2 separate regions of the Homo sapiens genome follow, and region 2 is linked to region 1. Evidence: fine-mapped expression QTL. A gene starts in region 1. The other region holds a variant in brackets. All regions are shown on one strand. Distances are between the middles of the regions. Region 1 holds the start of NUSAP1 (nucleolar and spindle associated protein 1). Region 2 holds the start of LOC105370790 (a long non-coding RNA gene).

Region 1 (8,335 bases):
ACATACTATAATAATCCTTTTTAAAATTAGTTACAATAAATCCTCTACCAGTAAGAGAACAATAAAATGTAGACGGAAGTAACCTTGTATCTGTCTACTTTATGACTTTGAATCTAAGAGGTTCATGCCAATTGTAGAATGTTTAAATAAATGTCGGAGGGAGTATATTTTAGGAGTATTCAAATATGACAGATTGAGAGGGATCAATTTATTTCACATGCCTCATTAAGAGTAAAGTTAAGGCCTGGTGCGGTGGCTCACACCTGTAATCCCAGCACTTTGGGAGGCTGAGGCAGGTGGATCACAAGGTCAGAAGTTCGAGACCAGCATGGCCAACATGGTGAAACCCCGTCTCTACTAAAAATATAAAAATACAAAAATTAGCCAGGCATAGTGGCGTGCGCCTGGAATCCCAGCTACTCGGGAGGCTGAGGTAGGAGAATAGCTTGAACCCGGGAGGCGGAGGTTGCAGCGAGCCAAGATCCCGCCACTGTGCTCCAGCCTGGGTCAGAGCAAGACTCCATCTCAAAAAAAAAAAAAAAAAAAAAAAAAAAAGAATAAAAAGAACCCGAGTCTGCTGTCTCTAAAATTTATGCTCTTTTAGCTGCATCATTAATCATCCTCTTAATTCATTCTCTGACCCCATCTAGGTAATGAACCTACACTTAGAAAAAAATCAAGTTGTCTTGAGCTGTGCCATTTCATAACCCTCTTCGTAAGTCCCATATAGCTCATCTTACTCCACAAATACAGAAACACATGGGGCTTTCCCTCTAGTTTTTTTTTTTTTTTTTTTTCAGACGGAGTCTCGATCTGTCGTCCAGGCTGGAGTGTAGTGGTGCGATCTTGGCTCACTGCAACCTCTGCTTCCCAGGTTCAAGCCATTCTCCTGCCTCAGCCTCCCAAGTAGCTGGGACTATAGGCGCTTGCCACCTCGCCCCCCTAATTTTTGTACTTTTAGTAGAGACGTGGTTTCACCATACTGGCCAGGCTGGTCCCGAACTCCCGACCTTGTGATCTGCCTGCCTTGGCCTCCCAAAGTGCTGGGATTATAGGTGTAAGCCACTGCACCTGGCCTTCCTCCAGTTTTTTACAAAGCATCTAAACAAGCATTGTCTAATAGGAATATAATGTGAGTCACATATGTAATTTTAAATTTTCTATTCATTTTGCTTTTTTTTTTGAGGAAGAGTCTCGCTCTGTTGCCCAGGCTGGAGTACAGTGGGATGATCTTGGCTCACTGCAACCCCCGCCTACCAGATTCAAGCAATTCTCTGCCTCAGTCTCCCAAGTAGCTGGGATTACAGGCGCCCGCCACCACGCCCAGCTAATTTTTGTATTTCTAGTAGAAACAGTTTCACTATCTTGGCTAGGCTGGTCTTGAACTCCTGACCTCGTGATCCATCCGCCTTGGCCTCCCAAAGTGCTGGGATTACATGCATCAGCCACGGCGCCTGGCCTAATTTTGCTTTAAAAAATAAAATAAAAACAGGTGAAATTAGTTTTTAAATATTTTATTTAACCCAATATATCAAAAATGTCATTTCACCATGTAATCAATTTTTTTTTTTAAGACAGAGTTTCGCTCTCGTTGCCCAGGCTGGAGTGCAATGGCGTGAACTCGGCTCACCACAACCTCCACCTCCCGGGTTCAAGCGATTCTCCCTCCTCAGCCTCCTGGGATTACAGCCTAGCTGGGATTACAGGCATGTGCCACCATGCCCGGCTAATTTTGTATTTTTAGTAGAGACAGGGTTTCTCCATTTTGGTCAGGCTGGTCTCGAACTCCCGACCTCTGGTGATCTGCCTGTCATGGCCTCCCAAAAGTGCTGGGATTATAGGCGTAAGCCACCGCTCCCAGCCGTAATCAGTATTTTTTTTTTTTTTTTTTTGATACGGAGTCTGTCGCCCAGGCTGGAATGCAGTGGCGCAATCTCGGTCACTGCAAGCTCCGCCTCCCGGGTTCACGCCATTCTCCTGCCTCAGTCTCCTGAGTAGCTGGGACTACAGGCGCCCGCCACTATGCCTGGCTAATTTTTTGTATTTTTAGTAGAGACACGGTTTCACCGTGTTAGTCAGGATGGTCTCGATTTCCTGACCTTGTGATCCGCCCGCCTCGGCCTCCCAAAGTGCTGTGATTACAGGTGTGAGCCACCACGCCCGGCCCGTAATCAGTATTTGTAAATGATTAATTTTTCTGTACTAAGTCTTTGAAATCCAGTGTGTATTCTGTGTTCACAGCATATCTCAATGCAGATTTAATAATATATAATAGCTACATATGACTAGTGATTACAGTATAGGACAGCACGGGTCTAGATTCATTAGCCTCCTCTCCAAGAGCACATTCAGGAACCTTCTGCCTCTGGCCCCAGAATACACCCAATTCCAAGCAGGCAATTGCTCCTTCTTGCTTTGTCCCCTTTGGGTGGGAAGGGGACTCCTATAGCGATAGGGAGTGTCTTTTATTCAGGAAAAAGAAAGGGAGCTGTGGGTCTAACTCCGTTTTTGAAGTTTGTCCAAGCTGCAGAAATCTTCCTGGTTACTGGACAAAGCAACTAAGAATTCCTATATTTTAACCGTAACGTTGAATCAAACTGGTCAGAATGAAATGAATTGTCTCAATGTTAAAGCCAAAACTCAAAATTGAGGAGCCTTGCAATACCAAATTCACTGACTACTTTATTGTCACTTGTAAATCATAGTACAGGCAGGTCGCAAAGTTTACCAGGCAGTATTCAAGTACATAACATTCTAGTTGTGTTTTTCTCCAGTTTCTGGGGTTACTGAAGAATTAGCCCTGGCATAGCTTATTACAAACTAACCATAATCGCAAACTTAAAAGTTCTAATATCAAGCGTGGGCAACATACTAAGGCCTCTACAAAAAATTTAAAAATTAGCCGGGAGTGGTGCTGTGTGCCTGTAGTCCCAGCTACTCCGGAGGGTGAGGTTGGGAGGATAGCTTGAGCCAGGAAGGTAGGGGCTGTAGTGAGCTATGAGCGCACCAGTGCACTCCAGCCTGGGCGAGAGCAAGACCCTGTATCAAAAAGTTCTAATATCTAAAAGGATTGTAGTTTATAGTATGTTATTCTCACTGTAAACCAAAAGGTTATTTTTTTCTTTTGTCCACTACTAGATACATCTTTCTTAGCCTCACTTCACTTGTACAAGCCACCTGGGAGAAGTGGCCCTCAGGAAGATCCTAAAACCAATACACAAATACAACTTTTTCATTTCATTAATACATCAAGTTCATATAAGAGTCAAACAGGTAAAAGCAGCATCCCAAACTGTTTTCTCCTCGTACATGTCAGTTCCACGATCCTCAGTCTCATAAAGTCAGGGACTAGAGACCAATGTAATTATCAATACGTACCTGCCTTTGAGTGAACCTTCAATGCCAACTAGGAAGGGCGCTTCCAAAACGACGTTATTTGTAACTCCTAGGAAGACAAACACGGGTCAGAACCCATACTCTGCGGGCCTTGAAATGGAAAATCTCTCCTCTAGACAGACTCATCCTGGCCGTAAATATCAGGAGACTCCCCGATTCCCTGCCCCATCCCCAGGCCAAGGAGTTATTTGCTTCCAACTTTTCATCCCGTTTTCTTCCCCAGGTGGTTCTCCGCCACCCGGTGGAGAAAGCGGGAACACCCTCTCGGGCTAGCCTCTGCCTTTCCCGAACGCTTCACTGCACTCACTGGAGAAGACCACGGCCCCGAGGGACCGCGACAGGTCCCAGGCGAGGTGCACCGAGTCGGCGAGCACTGCGTGACACTGTGCGCACTGGAACACAGCGCACCTCTCAGGCTGCAGCCAAGACGGCAGCTGCGGGCCGGCGGCTGGCTCCTCAGCCCCCAGCCCTGCGGGGCCGAGCGGCGAGGACCCCTTCACCACCTGCGTATCCCACTCCATGGAGGTCGTAAAAGAAGCTTGGTCAATCGCCCTCTCAGTGCCACCACAAAAGTCCCCCCGGGGCGGCGTTGCACAACGTGAGCGATGCCGCAGCGGCTGAGCCGCCATCTTCCCGCAGCCGGCGCCTTCCTTTCGAATACACGCCAGGCCCCGCCCCAAGCACAGCTCCTGCGTCCTCATTGGACATCATGGGCAATCCAAGCACTGGAGTCCGAGTCCGCGCACTCGTTACCTGAACAGGCGTTACAGGCCCTTTGGCGCCTGCGTATTCGTGAAGTGTGAAAAAAGCGCGCCTCTGTTGGGACGGGAAATCAGCCTTTCTATTGGTCAGGGTTAGAAACCCCGCCTTTGAGGCATTTTCAACCAATGGAAGCGCGGCATTCTTCATTTAAACTGTCTATAAATTTCTGCCTAGTCAAAGTTAAGAGTGGCGCCAGGGATTTGAACCGCGCTGACGAAGTTTGGTGATCCATCTTCCGAGTATCGCCGGGATTTCGAATCGCGATGATCATCCCCTCTCTAGAGGAGCTGGACTCCCTCAAGTACAGTGACCTGCAGAACTTAGCCAAGAGTCTGGGTCTCCGGGCCAACCTGAGGGTACGGCGCTGGCGGTGCGGGTCCCTGGGCGGGCGCGGCGGGAATAGCGGCCTCGGGGAGATGCGGTGCGAAGGGACCGAGAGGGAAGCCCGGGACTGAGGCAGCTCTCCCTGCCCCTCGGGCAGTAGATGTGGTTCACGGTAGTCCCAGTTAGAACTCTGATAAACGGAAGAGGAACTGTAGTTTTCACCTCATTTTGAAGCTGGCTTGTCTGGGTGCTCACATGATAAGCTCTATTCCGAGGGATGGTTTATTGTTTTTTGTTTTGTTTTGTTTTGAAATTACTGTATACCTCTCAGGGCGTCGATTACGAAACTCAGGCCCAGAAAGCACAAGGGGTGTCGTTAATCGTTAGACAATTAAGTAAATAATTGGCTCAGCTTCTGGAAAACCCCAAACAGACTCCAGTGATTTGTAATATTGCCGATAATCTCTTGATACTTTATTGATGGACCTGTCAGAAAAAAAAAATCGACTTTTAGGGGAGCACCTCCTTGGGTAAATTTTTATTGATGACTGTTGGGTTGATGGTCTCTATCAAAACCAGTAAGGTCTTTGACTCCGAGGCTACAAGATGTTTGGAGAGTTGGCCCGGCGCTGTGGCTCACGCCTGTAATCCCAGCACTTTGGGAGGTCGAGGCAGGCGGATCACCTGAGGTCAGGAGTTCGAGACCAGCCTGGCCCTTAAAAAATTAGCCGGGCGTGGTGGCACACGCCTGTGATCCAAGCTTTTTGCCTGTGATCCCAGCTACTTGGGAGGCTGAGGCAGAAGAATCGCTTGAACCTGGGAAGCCGAGGTGGCAGTGAGCCAAGATCGCACCACTGCACTCCAACTTCGGTGACAGAGAGAGACTCAGTCTCAAACAAAACAAAAACAAACAAAAAACCCAAGATGTTAGAAGAAGATTTGGGGATTTAATGTAGGATAGCGGTTTTATATATTTTGTTAATAGTTGAGACTTCCCACATAATACTGCTATATACTCTGGAGGTTTCTCCTGCAGGCTGTGATACTGACAGTGAGTAAATGCTTAAATCAATCGTCACAATTTTTTTTTTATTTGTTTGTTTGTTTGTTTTTTCTTTGAGACGGAGTCTTGCTCTGTCGCCCAGGCTGGAGTGCAGTGGCGCCATCTCGGCTCACCGCAACCTCCGCCTCCTGGGTTCAAGCGATTCTCCTGCCTCAGCCTCCTGAGTAGCTGGGATTACAGGCGCGTGTCACCACGCCTGGCTAATTTTTGTATTTTTAGTAGAGATGGGGTTTCACCATGTTGGTCAGGCTGGTCTCGAACTCCTGACTTCCTGATCCGCCCGCCTCAGCCCCCAAAGTACTGGGATTACAGGCGTGAGCCACCCCACCCGACCTAAATTGTTTAAACAAAATAATCAGGGCCTAAGTGCCTGTTGGGGCTGAATGACCAAAGGGTTTTCCTTGGGGATATTTCTGGGCTGTAGTGGTTAGTGGCTCCTCTATACTTCGTAAACAAAGCCTTAATATCTCAGCCTAAATTCCTTAGGCTTTTTTGCTGCCTAGCTAGAATCTTTTATCCAAGGCTGCATCCCTGAACACTTGGCACTTTTATCTATCTTTGTCCCATTGCTCATTTTGACCCTCTAGCCTCAGATCACCTTCTTTCTCCTTTATCTGCCTGGCTGTGTGTGTGTGTGTGTATTTTTAGTAGAGATAGGGTTTCACCATCTTGCCCAGGCTGGTCTTGAACTCCTGGGCTCAAGCGATCCTCCCGCCACGGCCTCCCGAAGTCCTGGGATTACAGGCGTGACCCACCACGCCTGGCCCATATCAAGTATTTATATGTGAATCAAGTATTTATAGGTGAAATGTTATGATACCTGTAAAATTTGCTGTAAAATACTCAAGGAAAAAGAGAGGGAAACTAGATGAAGTAAGAACAGAAGAATGTTAATAATTACTGAAACTGGAGATAGGTACATGGGGGGATTGCACTATTCTCTCTACTTTTTTAGGTTTGAAATTTTCCATAATAAGATGTTTTAAATTATTAACTTGGTACAACCTAAGAGCTCATTAAGTCAATTGCCTTTTGAAATTTTAGTACATAGCAAAAAAATTAATAAATTGCTCTGAGAAATTATCAAGATTTGATTAAAATGAAACACTACAATTTAAATAAATTTTACTAGCATAAATATACTAGTATAATTATGCTAATAAAATTTATAATTTATACTAGTATATACTATATATATTATTACTAGTATAAATATATAATATATATACTAGTATATATAAATATACTAGGATACTAAATATACTAAATACACTAAAATAAACTAAATATATAAATATACTATATATACTAAATATACTATATTAATATACTATATGTACTAGATAAATATACTATAAATATACTATATAAATATACTAAATTTACATATTTAGTATTTAGTGTGTATTAGTATATATATTTAGTATAGATATACTATATACTAAATATACTATATATACTAATATGTATACTAAATATATTTAATATACTAAATATATTATACTATAAATAAATATAAATACTATACTTAATATACTATATACTAAATATACTATATATAAATATATTAAATATATAAATATACTAAATATAAATATACTAAATATAGTATGTATGTTTAGTATAAATATACTAAATATACTATATTTATACCGGTATAATATACTAAATATGCTATATTTATACCGGTATAAATATACTAATATACTATATTATACTGGTATAAATATACTAAATATACTATATTATACCAGTATAAATATAAATATACTAAATATACTATATTTTTATGTATACTAGTATATTTGTACTAGTAAAATTTATTTAAATTGTAATGTTTTATTTTAATCAAATCTTGATAATTTTACTAGTATGATATTATTAAAAATAAATTTATGGCCGGGCATGGTGGCTTGCACCTGTAATCCCAGCATTTGGGAGGCCAAGGCAGGTGTCTCACCTGAGGTCAGGAGTTTGAGACCAGACTGGCCAGCATGGCAAAACCCCATCTATACTAAAAATACAAAATTTAGCCAGGCGTGGCAGGGGGCACCTGTAATCCCAGCTACTCGGGAGGCTGAGGCAGGAGAGGAGAATTGCTTGAACCCAGGGAGGCAGACGCTGCAGTGAGCCAAGATCACACCATTGCACTCCAGCCTGGGCAACAAGAGCGAAACTCCGTCTAAAAATAATAATAATAATAATAATAATAATAAATATATAGGAGATAATATTCCCTCTTTTGAGAGACTTCTCTTAATGGTATAGCAATTTGAAGGAGCCAGTTATTAATGTTAGTGGGGCGACTGGTCCTGTTGTCACTCATGCCCTCACTTCCTTTCTTGCGAGCTTAAATTACAAACACTGGCACTATTTCCACTTCCTTGCACCTCCCTATACTCACCTGGCAAAACCCAAGCCTGATTAAACCCAGCTATGTGCTTAATCTTTGCCTATACCTCTGCAGCTAACTCTAGTTGGAGAAAACACCTAACTTTGTTGAGCGAACTTATTTTAAATATGCAACGCTAAACCTTAATATGGGCATTTGATCCTCCTCCTTTTGGTTTTTTTTTTTTTTTTTTTTTGAGATAAGGTCTCGCTCTGTTGCCTAGGCTGCAGTGGCACAATCAGGCCTCACTGCAGCCTCAACCTCTCAGGTTCAAGACATCCTCCCACCTCAGCCTCCTAAGTAGCTGGGATTACAGGCACGTGCCACCACACCTGGCCCATTTTCTTCTTAGTCATGAACTTTCCTACTTTTGAGGATAATTACTTTTTATCATCTTG
Region 2 (8,335 bases), 150 kb after region 1:
AGTGTACATTTGTGGGGGGGGGGGGTCTAATTTGAGAGCGAGAGTGTGTATGTGTGTGTGTGTAAGTGTGTGGATTTTTTTATCATTTTTTTAAAATGCAGTACTCTTTGTATCAGTCTGTCATGGGTCTATAGCTGTTTCAGATTTTTTTCAGCTGTACTTGAGCATCTGAAACTGCAAGAAAGAAACTCATTAAATGTGATTCTTCTTACTAAACAGGCCTGACTGCTGTAGCTGTGTAACTTCCCCATTCCCACCTACTCTTCCCATCCTTTCCCAACTTTGGAGAAAACTCCCCAGTTTAGCCCCCTGACCTGCAGGCTGTGTCCTGGCAGGTGTGGGAGGGAAGCCCATGGCCAGGTACCAGGGAGGGCAGTGAATGTCTTGCTCTTCCCATGGGTACAGCCCACAGCTTCTTGGCTGAACGTAGAACTTCTTTTTCTCACCCAGTATACCAGCCTCTTCCTGGTGATTCTGTTTTGCTGCTTTGGCAAGAACTACATTTTGTTTTTAAGAGAAATTTCTGAATATGAATGTGGAGAGCAAACACAAAAAGATTTAGGTTACGCCGGGTGCAGTAGCTCACGCCTGTAATCCCAGCACTTTGGGAGGCCTAGGCGGGTGGATCACCTGAGGTCAGGAGTTCAAGACCAATCTGACTAACACGGTGAAACCCCATCTCTACTAAAACTACAAAACTTAGCCGGGCATGGTGGTGCGTGCCTGTAATCCCAGCTACTCGGGGGGCTGAGACAGGAGAATCCCTTGAACCTGGGAGGCGGAGGTTGTGGTGAGCCAAGATCGTGCCACTGCACTCCAGTCTGGGTGACAGAGTGAGACTCCGCCTCAAAAAGATTTAGGTTGCAAATGTTTCAAGCATGTGCAGTTTTGTGTGTGTGTATACATATATATGGTCAGCATATATATTGTGCAGCTAGGGCGAAGCCAGCAGAGGTGTGTGTATGTCTTTATGAAATGTTTGAAAAGAGATAAACTGACTGCTTGATAATCACTCTCAGGTGTAAAGCTCCAAGTGTAAATAAAAGTGGCATTTAACAAATCTTTCAGAACAAAGTACAGCTGACTATATATACCAAGAGCTAAGCTAAAGGAACAGCTGAGAGCTCCGATCTCCACGAGAGACTAATCTAAAAGCTCTGCTTTGTACTTCCTCACCCTGCTTTCGTACAAGGAAGGGGGACGATGGGAAATCATGGACTTGTAAGTTGTATTTAAACATAAAAATGAACTTGGTAACTTCTGGGTTTAGTAGAGCCTCAGTGTCGCTTTAACTTAGTTTACTTTTTTTTTATTTTTAAAGCAGCAATGGATGGTTTTAAAGGAGTATTATGATTGTAAAATTGCTAAATATGACTGTAACACAGCTTTGTGGTAGCTGTGACACAGTTCACTTGGGCAAAGGAGTGGTGATGGACTCGTTAAAATCATATATACTTGAATAGTCCATTGACCGAAACTCTTTATAGACTATTGTGTAAATGTGGAATCACAGACTGTTAACATTGCCTGGACTTCAGCAGAGTCCTGGAGCTGCTGGGACCTCTCCTATCATGATGAACTTGGACTTTTTTTTTTGATTTCTGGTTTTAAAAAACATAAAATTATAGAATCCAGATAATTCGCTGGAGTCATTCTGATCCACCATGTAGATCTGTATTTAGTATCATTTGGATTTGGAGAAGTGTTGATTACATTATGGCTGTGTAATAAAATTTTTATTAAAACTGCATCACACTGTAGCCACTTTGCCACCACCTCCCCACATGTAGCCGCTGAAACCCCCACGAGATGCCAATGCACACAGCAGGGAGAAAAGCCAACCAAAGAAGACCGAAGGGTATCTTTCCACCCGAGTAGCCTCTGTAGTGATTGGGACCAAGACTAAGGACTTGTCTCCAATCTCAGCTGAGGCAGTGCCTCTGAACCAAGATCTTGGTCAGGCATTAAGACACTGGCTTTGTCCTACCAACTAGGATTTCTTGGTGGTTCACACTATTTCTTGTGCTGGGGAATTCCCTCATTGGGCCCCTCCTCCCTCCACAGTGTGGTTTCAGTGTTGAAGGGTGCAGCACCCAAGGTTGTTTTTATGCATTTTTTCAGTTCCTTCCAAGAAGCAAAAAGGCCAGTGTCCATCTGCCTAGTTCATAATGTTTATAGGTCTGTTTGTCTGTCTTGCTTCTGGCAGGTGTAGGGAAAGTCTACTGCCTGCCACTCCCTTCAAAAAGAATGTTTTTGCTTTTGTGAAGTCCTGACTTGCCACTCAAACTGTACCAATATTGTAAATAAATGTTATGCCATTTTAACAAAGGGATCAGATTGAGTCTAAGGATTGCATCCTGAGTGGCAACTCCTAAAGCCATGTTTTGAAAGTCCAAGAGAACCTCTCTTGCTCCTTTTCCTTCTTCTCTTAGCCCTGTGCCCACAAAAGTGAAAGTGGCCATCGTCAACTCTTTAGCAGCCTGGTTCCCCGGAAGCCTCTCTGGTAGGGTAGTTGCCTAGACCCAAGGAAACCTCCAGTTGTCCTGGTTTACTTCCTGTCTTGGTAAGAGACCAATAAGTTTTAACAGAGCTAAGTAGACCCCTGATGTACTGCCTAACCCTAGTGAGAATCTGGGCCTTTCAACCTTTTTTTTTTTAGCTGGGGTCTCTGCTGTCTAGGCTGGAGTGCGGTGGTGTAATCACAGCTCACTGCAGCCTCAACCTCCCGGGCTCAAGTGATCCTCCCACCTCACCATTCCAAGTAGCTGGGACTACAGTCATGCACCATCACACCCAGCTAATTTTTAAATTTTCTGTTGAGACGGAATATTGCTATGTTGCCCAGGCTGGTCTTGAACTCCTGGCCTCGAGTGATCCTCCCGCCTCAGCCTCCCAAAATGCTGGGATTGCAGGCATGAGCCACTGTGCTCAGCTCCTTTCAACTTTAAATTGGCCTAGGCACAGTTTCTTTGCTCTTCTTTTTTCTGGCTATCATGAGTTTGAAGGGGGTGCCCAAGGGCCATGAGTGTGGCTATGGAGGAAACACTGATCTTCCTTCATCCACGCACCCCTCATGCTGGGGAGGTCTATAGGCCTCCCCATCCCCAGTGCCTGAGGCTGTGTCTCCAACCTTTCTGAACACATTTTAGCTAGGAAGCAAGAAGATCCTGGATCTTCCACACCCTTTAAGAAGGCAAGGGATGGCAATCACAGTGATAAGAGCCACGTCCAAGACCGCTTCTGGTGGTGGAGAGGTTGCTTACCTGCAAGTGCGTCCAATGAGGTTTTCTCCAACTCCCCAGCACTCCCACTACCTAACTGGTGGGAGCAGTGGGACCTAGAGAGCAGGGGTT[C/A]TGGGCAGATGACAACATAGCTTGCTTATCTTCCAGGATTTGGGTGCTGTGGGGCAGCCACTTGCTACCTATCTCTGAGAATCCAGAAAGAACACCTGGGGTGCAAGTGGAGAGAAGAAGGGTGCTGGGTTGGTCAACTTCATCTCCCTGGCCACGTTTTTCCAGAAGGGAGATCTTCCTTCAGTAACTATAATGTGGCTGTGATCCAGCAGCCTTAGGAAGCCATCAACTCCCAGCTCAAATTTTTTTCACGATTTCCCTGACTTAAGCGGAGACTGCTGAGCTCCCTTGGCAAGGAGGGTGTTAAGGAGCTGAAGGGAATGGCAGTGCTAAGACAGGGCCAAAAGGCATGCCTTCTCTAAGGTTCCACAGGCCAGCCCCAGGGAACATGGAGATACGGCTTTTAGGCACTGGAGCATAGATAGGCATGTCTAGGGCTTCCAGACCATGCTCAGGATACAAGGGAGGGCCAAGAGCCAAAAGGCACCCAGGCTCGGGAAAGGGTTCAGATCCCCGCTCTGCCACTTGCTATTACCTAGGGCTGAGCTACTTAACACCTTTGAGCCACAAGTTTTCCACCTTTCAAAAAACAACCTGTCCCCAGTAGGGGTCCAATAAATGCTGTTGTTAATGAGAGTGAAGCCGCTGGACCCTGGAGGAGAGGAACGGCCCTTGGAGTGGGCTGATGGAGGGCGGAAGCACTGGGCAGTGGGCAGGACCAGAAACTCCACTTGGGCTGGGGTTGGGAGGGGGGGAAGAAACCCTGACTCCAGATGGAGGCTCCCACTGGGAGACCCTGGGCTGGCCTAGGGATGCGTCCAGAGAAAGTGTGCTGCCTCTGGGCCAGGCCCTCGTTGCTGTCATTCCCCACAGGCCAACGCACACCACCTTTACTGACCAGGCTTCTGAAGGCGTTGAAGGCTTGCCACCTTACCACCCTCCAGCTGGCCCCAACTGAGGCCCGACCTACCCACAACCCCCAAGAGTAGTGAATACTCAAAATAGCACCAATAGTACCAAACCAGAAGGTAAGTGTAAAAGAAGCACAACAAAGCTCTGACCCTTCCCATGATGATTACCTTGATACTTCTTCAAAAGATAGATACTTTTGGGCCCTGCACCATGGCTCCTGCCTGTAATCCCAGCACTTTAAAAGGCCGAGGAGGGAGGATCGCTTGGGGCCAGGAGTTCGAGACCAACCTGGTCAACATAGCGAGACTCCATTTCTTTTTTTCTTTTTCTTTCTTTCTTTTTTTTTTTTTTTGAGGTGGAGCCTCGCTCTGTTGCCCAGGCTGGAGTGCAGTGGCGCAATCTCGGCTCACTGCAACTTCCACCTCTCAAGTCCATGCAATTCTACTGCCTCAGCTTCCCAAGTACCTGGGATTACAGGCATGTGCCACCATTCCTGGCCAATTTTCGTATTTTTAGTAGAGGTGAGGTTTTACCATGTTGGCCAGGCTGGTCTTGAACTCCTGACCTTGTGATCCTCCCGCCTCGGCCTCCCAAAGTGCTGGGATTACAGGCGTGAGCCACCACGCCCGGCCTCTATTTTTTTTTTTAATCGAATACTTTTGATTTCTTTTTCTCTTTTAGCCATGGATAGCCCTGCTTCGCTAAGCGCGTGCGATGCAGCACAGCCCTTCACCTGGCAAGCCCGGAAGCCTCAGGTTGACTCCATCAGTTTTGCCGGGAGAGCCCTTCGGCGCTCCCCGCTTGGTGTCTCCACCACCCCCCGCACCGGCCTGGGCGCCACCCTTGTCCGCGCCAACGGTCCCCGCATCCCTGGCCCCGTGCGCCTCCTGCGCCGTTAGCGCCCAGTCCACGCAGCAAGGGAGGAGGCGCGCGGCCGCTGCGTTCCAGGGCGCTCTGCCCTCGTTCCCCACTCCGGGCCCGCAGCCTCAGAGCCAGGGTCCCAGTGGCCCGGGGCCTGCATGCGTCTCCAGCCGTGGATCCCCCGGGGCGCGCGCCTTGGGAGTTGAGCTGGACCCCGGCTCGCACGCGGCCCACGCGGAGACGCATGGGCACTACGGTCCCAGACCCCGGGCCACTGCATGCTCTGTGGACTCGGTCCCCAGGCACACCCGAGGTGTGGAGGTCACGCCTGCAGGCGCAGAGCTCACAGATGGAATTAGGAGGCGCCTCCTAACCCCCGCCTCCCCCCATCACACGCCACCATGACTACACGATGCAGGGACCCCCGACGACGTCCCAGGCATTCCTACAGTGGTCGCCTCCACAAGCTGAGTCCCTGACCTCAGACCCTTCCTGTCCCCTTCACCTCCCCTCGCACTGGGTGAGGTTCTGAGGGTTCTGAGTTCTGGAGAAGAAGGAGGATCACAGGAACACAGGCTCCTGAGTGGGATCGGAAACCTTGTTTCTGAAGTGTAAGGAGAGAATATGTTCTTACTGCGCACACACAGGTGTGGTGACACATTTTGTTCGTTTTAGACAAGAGTGACTCAGACTGTGGAGGGTCAATGAACACTGCTAGATCCTGAGCCCTGCTGAGGTAACCTTGCACCCATCCCTGGATATTCCCACAACGTCTAGTCAATCCATTTATGAGGTCAGAGATTGCCGGGAAGGAAGGGAAACCTAGAGGCCAGGAAAAGAGGCTGGGGCTGGGAGCTGAGGGCTCGCCTGTCAGGTGAAGACCCATTCACGCCTCTTTCCAAGAGAAAGGAGACCCTCACCTCTCTCCCATTCTCACGTGTCCACTGGGCTCTGGCCAGCCCTCCAGCACCCTCTCTGGTAGGCCCTGACGGAGAAGGACATCGAACCCACCAGAGGTGAGGAATGTTTTGGATGCAGGAAGCAGCTGAGAAACCAAAATTCCCAGCGCGCACATTGACAACCTCTTGGAAAGGGAGGGAAGGCAGCCACTGAGCGTCCCAGGGCCTGTTTTCTTCTTGGGCCCTTTCTGGTTTCCTTCCTCGGTAAGACAATGAAAATGATACACTATCACTCCCGGAAACGGGCGGGGGCATCACAGGATCCACGCATTCCTGTGTCCTTTGCACCTAGCACAATAGCAGCTGCTCCATGGAAGTGTGTCTGCTCTGTGAATGCATGAGTGAATCACAGGTATTGTCACAGAATAGTGGGGTCTTAGGGTCATAAAGTCCCTTGGAAGGGCACCAAGTCCCACAGTGCATGTCTGGGAGTTGTTACTAGAATAAGACCTTGCACCACCGGGTCCAGTGGAACATGACAGCCCAACCCCCTCTCACCTCCCCACTCCTACCACACACACACACCCCACACACACTACACACACCACACTCACACACCACACCCACCACACACACACTACACACACTCACACACCACACACACCACACTCACACCCACACCTACCACACACCACACCCACCACACATGCCACACTCACACCACACCCACACCACATACCACACACCACACACACACCACATGCAACACACAACACACACATACCACACGTGCGCCACACATACATGCCATATACACCACAAACATAACCCCCCACACACACCACACATGCCACAATGACACATACCACACACACACTAGAGAGGCTCTGCTCCTGCTGGAGAAGACTTGAAGTCTCCTCAAAGGAACAGATGCTCCATTCAGGAGCACAGGTCAAAGGCTGTGCCTTCCCTTCTCTCCCCAAGGTGAAAGGCCCTGCTTGTCATCTTAGGAAGCAGAAACCAGCACTGTGCCTGGCAGAGGGTGATGAGTGGTGATTTTGCTCCTGCCACTGGTGCTGCCCTGGGGATGGGGTAGAGGTGGGCACAGCTATGAGGCAGGCTGGGGTGAGGACCCCAGAAACCCCTCACATCACACATCCCATTTTCCAGGCCCTTTTTTCTTCCCTAGTTTTGTACCTGAGGGTGATGTTTCTCTAGAAGAGATGCAGCCCTCAGTCATGATAAATCCTGAAATTTTTTTTTTTTTTTTTTTTTTTTGAGACGGGGTCTCTCAATCTGTTGCCCAGGCTGGAGGGCAATGGCTTCATCACGGCTGACTGCAGCCTCAACCTCCCTGGGCTCAGGTGATCCTCCCACCTCTTCCTCCTGAATACCTTGGACCACAGGCATGTGTCACCATGCTTGGCTAATTTTCTTATTTTTTGTAGAGATGGGTTTTCAGCATGTTGCTCAGGCTGGCCTCAAATTCCTAGGTTCAAGTGATCCTCTTGCCTGGGCCACCCAAAGTGCTAGGATTACAGGTACCAGTCACTGGGCCCACCCCTGAAGGTCTTTGATGGGGGTGAAGACTCAGGCACTTCAAGAAGCAGACCTCAGGCCAGGCGCAGTGGCTCATGCCTATAATCCCAGCATTTAGGGAGGCCAAGGTGGGCAGATCACCTGAGGTCAGGAGTTCAAGACCAGCCTGGACAACATGGAGAAATCTCATCTCTATTAAAAATATAAAAATCAGCTGGGCATGGTGGCAGGTGCCTGTAATCCCAGCTACTCAAAAGCTGACACAGGAAATTTCCTGAACCCAGGAAGCAGAGGTTGCAGTGAGCTGAGATCACACCAATGCACTACAGCCTTGGCAACAGAGCGAGACTCTGCCTCAAAAAAAAAAAAGCAGACCTGTAGGGAACAGGAGGATCAACCAACTGAGATACCACAAGAAGATAGGTTCTGGCTGGGCACAGTGGCTCACACCTATAATTCTAGCACTTTGGTAGGCCAAAGCAGGAGGATTGCTTGAGCCCAGGAATTCAAGACCAGCCGGGACAACAGAGTGAGATCCCTGTCTCTACAAAAAATTTAAAAATTGGCTGGGCATGGTGACACATGCCTCTGCCTGTGGTCCCGGCTACTCGAGAGGCTAAGGCAGGAGGATCACTTAGGCCCAGGAAGTTGAGACCGAAGTGAGCTGTGATTGTGACTCTGCACTCCAGCCTGGGTGACCGAGTGAGACCCTGTCTCAAAAATAAATAAATAAATAAAGGAAAAGAAAAAAGGTTATCTGCTCAGACATGT

What was found. PIP is the estimated chance that this variant, and not a neighbour inherited with it, causes the effect.
Region 2: its variant is fine-mapped to the expression of NUSAP1 in whole blood (TOPMed, PIP 0.91).

What each region holds. Positions count from the first base shown.
Region 1 is chr15:41,328,537-41,336,871 of GRCh38, forward strand. It overlaps NUSAP1 (nucleolar and spindle associated protein 1), which reads left to right and starts at 4,345. Exons shown (of 11, transcript NM_016359.5): 1 at 4,345-4,514. The coding sequence starts at 4,422. It overlaps OIP5 (Opa interacting protein 5), which reads right to left and starts at 4,055. Exons shown (of 5, transcript NM_007280.2): 1 at 3,704-4,055; 2 at 3,379-3,445. The coding sequence starts at 4,025. RefSeq lists enhancers at 3,809-4,068, 8,203-8,335.
Region 2 is chr15:41,481,232-41,489,566 of GRCh38, forward strand. It overlaps RTF1 (RTF1 homolog, Paf1/RNA polymerase II complex component), which reads left to right. Exons shown (of 18, transcript NM_015138.5): 18 at 1-2,332. It overlaps LOC105370790 (a long non-coding RNA gene), which reads right to left and starts at 5,138. Exons shown (of 3, transcript XR_932169.3): 1 at 4,999-5,138; 2 at 3,264-3,448. RefSeq lists an enhancer at 2,443-2,492. The variant C/A (reference allele first, on the strand shown) is at 3,354.